Regions from separate parts of the Homo sapiens genome. Here region 2 is linked to region 1. Evidence: fine-mapped expression QTL. A gene starts in region 1. The other region holds a variant in brackets. All regions are shown on one strand. Distances are between the middles of the regions.

Evidence for each region. PIP is the estimated chance that this variant, and not a neighbour inherited with it, causes the effect. A credible set is the group of variants that fine-mapping cannot tell apart.
Region 2: its variant is the best candidate, but not a certain one, in a credible set for the expression of GAS6 in fibroblasts (GTEx, PIP 0.67).

The regions. Positions count from the first base shown.
Region 1 is chr13:113,862,651-113,865,556 of GRCh38, forward strand. It overlaps GAS6 (growth arrest specific 6), which reads right to left and starts at 1,426. Exons shown (of 15, transcript NM_000820.4): 1 at 1,183-1,426; 2 at 925-1,091. The coding sequence starts at 1,270. GAS6-DT (GAS6 divergent transcript) reads left to right here and starts at 1,527. Exons shown (of 2, transcript NR_044993.1): 1 at 1,527-1,645; 2 at 2,360-2,906. RefSeq lists silencers at 450-499, 980-1,039, 1,060-1,119 and an enhancer at 840-1,431.
Region 2 is chr13:113,904,725-113,907,630 of GRCh38, forward strand. All of the region lies in intron 3 of LINC00452 (long intergenic non-protein coding RNA 452), which reads left to right. Among named protein-coding and RNA genes, the nearest start is that of LINC00452, 11 kb to the left of the region's middle. The variant T/C (reference allele first, on the strand shown) is at 1,533.

The sequences.
Region 1 (2,906 bases):
AGAAAGGCAGATCTAAGAGGGGTCAAGTCAACCACTAGAAATGTAAGCGGAAACAGGCCTCCATGGTTCATCCAGAACCACTCTTTCATCCCGGGTGACATTTATTCCACCCCAGGAGAATTCTTTAAAAGGAACATTCCAGCAGAACGGAAAACTTCGCTATGAAATCACCCTGACTTCAGGGCGGGAGGGACGTCAACGGGAATCCACACCTTCTCGGACTTTCCAAAGTCACCCGCTCCCGAGCCCGCAGGATAGAGTGGCCAGGCCGTCCTCACACGGCGGCTCCTGCGGGAGGCGGCCCCGGGCGCCCCGCCTTCTCCAAGGACATTCCTAACCGAGGTGCCGGGGCCAGCACCGTCGGGCTCCTGAAAGCACCCGCTGCCTCCAGGAGAGCACCTGGCAGAACGGGGCCGCGGAGCCGCCCTCCCCTCCCGCATGCGGCCCCGCTCGATTCCTGGAATCTTATTTTTGGACCTGCTGCCGCAAGCAGTTCCCGCCCTCGGCCCTTTCAATTCCTCTTTCGGGAGGGGACTGCTCTCCACCCCTCTCAGGAGGACGAGGCGCGGCCCGGGGGTTCCTCACCTCCAGCCCAGCAGAGGGAGGGCCGCGGGGAAGCGGTTTGGGTTTTAACCATTGTGTTTCTCTCGCACTTTGGAAACGGACTCCCGGCTTCCCCGCGGGGAGGCGTCTGACAGCGAGCGTTTCCCGGACAGCCCCGCAGCGTCTCACCGGCCTGCGCGGGGATCCCGGGGTCGCCGGGGGATGGGCGTGGGGGACGCGGGGCGGGCCGGGGCTCCTGGGACCCTGAGGCCAGGCCTCGCCGCGCGGAGCTGGGGGGCGGCAGCAGCGCTGCCTCTCGGGAGCGGTTGGAGGCGCGCGGGCGCCAGGGGTTCCCCCGCATCCCGCCCGCCGGCTGCTCACCGTCTCGGGGTCGTTCTCGAACACCTCCCGCGCCTCCTCGCGGCTGCACAGCTCCTCCACGCACTCCCTCTCCAGGTGGCCCTGCTTGGCCTCCTCGAAGACCTGAAAGGCGCGGCGCTGCCTGGGCCGCAGGAACTGCGTGGCCTCGCGCGCCGGCAACAGCGCGGCTGCCCGGAGGGAGAGAGGGGGACGCGTCAAGCCGCGCCCGGAGCCTCCTCCCGCCGCCCGGGGACGGGGTCTCGGGCCCGCGGGACTCACCAAGCGCGCACTCCGCGGCCAGCAGCAGCAGCAGCAGCTGCGGCGCGCGGCGCAGGGCGGCGGGCCCGGGCGAGAGCGAAGGGGCCATGGCGGGCCGGGGACGCGCGGTCAGAGCGCCCGGGAGGCCGAGGCGAGCCGCGGGCGCCGCGGGGCGGAGGCTCCGGTCATCCCGTCCTGGCGGCCCTGAAGGTCACATCGCGGCGGCGGCGGCGGCGGCGGCTGCGGCACCTCAAGCGCTCGGTCTGGGCGTGTTCGGGCGGCTGCGCGCGGGGAGGCGGCGGGGGCGGGACCAGCGCGCGGGCGGGGCGCGGGTTCCCGGGAGGATCCGGGCGCGGGGAAAGCGGAGCGTCCGGGACGCGGCGGGACTCGAGTGTTTCGGAAAAGGAGCGTCTCCCCAGGCGGTGGTTGTCTTCACTAGCGATGGGGTAAAAGGAGGACGCAATACCTGGTTCAACTTGAGCAGGTACATTTTGACCATATTCCAGGTGTCATGTGAAGATTTAAGCCTCTTTCCAACCCCCACTCCCCCCGAATCTACTGCATCCTTTTTGGAGTCTTCATTCTTAGGCACATTTTGTCAAGACTTAAAACCTACCAAAGAAAAGATACACTGAGGTCAGATCCAATCCCACTGGGGGCCAGCGAGTGAAATGCGACGGTTTCCTTTTATAATCTCTGTTTTTCATAATGATGACATTAAAAATCTTGAGGTTTCCCAGTAGATATTTAAGCTGAAAGCAACATTGTGCTTGTCTTCAGAGACCAAGACTTTCTGGCTCTTGTCTTGGAATATTTCGCAAAGTCATAGGCAAAACACACACAAACAAACAGAACCAAAACACAGCAGACCACTCACGGGGGACCGAACCAGGCAGTTAGCCCAGCATCCCCCTGCTGCGGGAGGAGGGAGCTTGGATACTCCTCTCTGGAGAATCCTGCTCTGGAAATCCCCACACCCCAAAATGCAATGTAGAGGGGCAGTGAGTCAGCACCTCACCCCAAATGAATGGCCGTTCTGCTCAGCAGGCTCAACGCTTAGATCCCCAGATCCAGTTTCTCTTTGCTTTCTGTAATTGGAAGAATGGAATAGGATTGCTGCTAGAAATCTTTGAGGTCACTGGTTTGAAAGTGGGATTATGAGCATGAATTTTTGTTGTTGTTGTTTGTTTGTTTTCAGACGGAGTCTCGCTATGTTGCCCAGGCTGGGGTGCAGTGGCGTGATCTCTGCTCACTGCAAGCTCCGCCTCCCGGGTTCACGCCATTCTCCTGCCTCAGCCTCCCGAGTAGCTGGGACCACAGGCGCCCGCCACCACGCCCGGCTGATTTTTTTTATTTTTAGTAGAGACGGGGTTTCACCGTGTTAGCCAGGATGATCTCAATCTCCTGACCTCGTGATCCGCCCGCCTGGGCCTCCCAAAGTGCTGGGATTACAGGTGTGAGCCACCGCGCCTGGCCGAGCATGTTAATTTAAGCAAATGAATGTCCCTGGGAATGATCTTCAAGGAGAATTAAAGTGGGATAGAGAAGTCATCTATCTGCACCTGTGTCTGAACCAGAATGACGAGGCACTTCCATGTCAGCTAGTTACTGGAGCAGGCGGAGTAAGGAGTACCCCTGGGCTTCTGCCCCGAAACCACCACGGCTACTTCAAAACAATATTACATTAATTTTCCTGCTTGTTCTTGAGAAGCACTGGTTTGAAAAATTGGATGGGGTGATACATG
Region 2 (2,906 bases), 42 kb after region 1:
AGCCCTTATCAGCAACATGGAAATAAATAACTCAAAGGTTAATTCCAGAAAGTTTCCTTACTCAAAGCGCATCTTGGCATTGATTTCACAGGCAGCAAGCCTCATCCCAAGCAATGCTAAAAGGTTTCATCACCCCAGCCCCATCCCCAGGCATCTGCTTGTCAGGCTTTAAGGTGATAAAGAAAGAGGAAGGATCATAAAAACACCCACGAAGAAATACAAGGGGGCTATCTAACTATTTTGGAATTAATCCCCTAGACTTTTGGAATGAGGATACATTGAGGAAAAGGTTATGGCAAGTTTGAGTCTGTCACCAACCTGCATCCGAGCCCCAGCAGGCCCTTCAGGTAACAAATCAAAGGCCTGTGTCCTGGTTCTTGCCCCTGCAGTCCTGGCCAACACTTTCTCTTAAGCGGCACCCACTGACCGGCTGCCTGGCAGCCTCCTCACCTTCCCTCTTCACTTGCTACATCTGATCCTTCAACAAGGCAGGAGTCCTGCGTCTACAGGCTTCTCCAGGAGCGATCTCTCTGTCAGGCTAATTAAACGGCAGCTACTCCCCAGGACAGTCCTGGAATCCTTGCTGAATCGTGGAAGCTCCAGGCAACCACAATACCCAGAATCTTTCCGTCACAGTTTAAGCCAGAGGTAGGGTCCCAGCAGGGGCCACTCGACCTTGCAGGAAAGCTCCCACATCCTACCCACGGGATGTTCTGGACCCCACTTCTGTTGTTGAGGTGAGGCTTTATTTTACTTCAAAAGTGTAGTACTTAGAAAAAAGTCAAGATAGTTGTATCTAGGAAGTAAAGATTCGTTTAATAAATTATTCAAAACTTCAGTATATCCTATTGCAATAATACTGAAACCAACTAAGAGAAAGGATGACGATACCCATCAAAGGGAAGTTAAGACCATCTTCTTAAGTAAATCAGAACCGGTGCCTGCACAGAATGAGCTGCTAAAAGAGATTTAAAAGCAATGAAAACACACAGATACGACCTGCCGTGTTCGTAATGTGCAGCCCAAGTGCGATTTCATATGACAGTTTCCCAAATTGCACCCTTCTGTGTGCAGATTTCAAAGTTTTGCCATATCCATGTGCTCTGAATTATTGTCTACCTAGGGCATCTTCAATAGACTCATTAAATACATTTAAATGTAAAATATGTTTACATTTAAATACATTTAAATACATCTGTGTGAGATTGAAGGTCCATTGTGCTGCCTGGTTTTTTCTACAGCACACTAAAATAAATTAGTAACTATTTTAAAAAATATCCATCCAGGTACCACCTAGAGCCCTGTCATATCCCCTCTGATCATCACCCACTGGCACTGGGTGTGACACCTTCCCCATGGGAACATGGCAGGACAACCCAGGAGGAGTCAGAGGACAGTGGGGGTCAGAACAGAGTGGGCAGCGCTGTGCGCAGTCCCCCGCCGGACGGCAGTGTCCTGAAATGTCAGCATGCTGGCATTTTATCCTACTCCTTTTATTAGGGAGCCTGAAATTTAAAAACATAGGCAGGCCC[T/C]GCTTATCAACACGGGTAATTTCCTATCTCGAGTGCATTCTCACTGAAGCAGGCCTTCCTATGATGTGTCCTAGGGAGATGGGCGTCACAGTTTGGGTTAACACTGAAAAACGTAAGGACAGTATAAAGATTTGAGTAGTAACCAAGATGGCACTCTTTAAACTTCAAACAATGTTTTTACAATTAATTTTTTTCTAATTATAAAAGTAATCCGTGTAGATTGCAGACCATTTGAAAAATACAGGAAAACACAAAGAAGGAAATAAAATTTATGCAGAGATAACCACTACTATGAAGTGGGCACTGAGTTCCATTAGGAAAAATTCCTAGGGGAGGAATTAGGGAATCAAATATTGAGTTTTCCTGTCAAGGGTGGTGCCAAGCTCTTCTGGTTGGCCACACATAGCCGACATGCCAGGCCAGCCTGCACCCTCCATCCCTCCACACACATCCAGAGCCGGGGGCCCAGGTGGCCTCTCCCACAGCTAAGGCTCAGCAGAGCCAAGGGTGGCTGCCAGGCCCGCTGGTGCCCTCTGCATGCATCTCTGCCTCTTGGGAATGGGCCAGGACTGCAGAGTGGGAGAGCGCTCAGGAAGGCTTGGTGGAGACAAACTGGCAAAGTGTTTTTAATGCTGCAAAACCAAATATATGCAAGAAAGCTGTAAAAATTGGAGGAAGATGACATTCAAAGGGATTCTGCCCTCAGATCACCATGACAGCATCTTTAATTCTTGCCTTAATTTAAGGAAATAAAGCGTAAAACCATGAGTGATGAATTATAAGATTTTTAAAATTTCTTTTCTTTTTGCCAGGAAAAAACAAATTCAAAGAGCAGACCTCACAGAGATGTTCTCACAAGAATCAAATCAATTCAGACTCATATATTTTAAGTTAAAAGGAAGCATTTGAGATGTATATGTATCATTGTCAATTTCCTGCTTTACCTGATTTTTTCACTTATTTGAAAATATTTCAACAAATAAAAGGGCTCCTAAGTGTTCAGCATGTTTCTGCATCTAGTCACCTGCTTTTTCATGTCCCTTAGTGGAGTTTTATATTTCTGTTTGCTTTACAAATGTGTACATGGTGGGTTTTATATTTTTATGCTCTCAGACTTACCGGTCCTCCCATCTCTGGTTTCTGCCTTTGGTATCATGCTGACATCTCTCAACTGACCCAATTTTTTCCTATAGTTCCTTACAAAATTTGTTGTTTCTTCAATATAAATTTTGTACTCATCTCTTGGCCTAACAAGTCCTGGGTATTTAAGATGCTGGGTTGTTATTTCGAACAGGCTCCCCCTCACTCTTGCTTGCGAGGTGGTTATTGCTAGCATCTGGGAATGCTATTGGATTTCTATATTGATTTTACTCA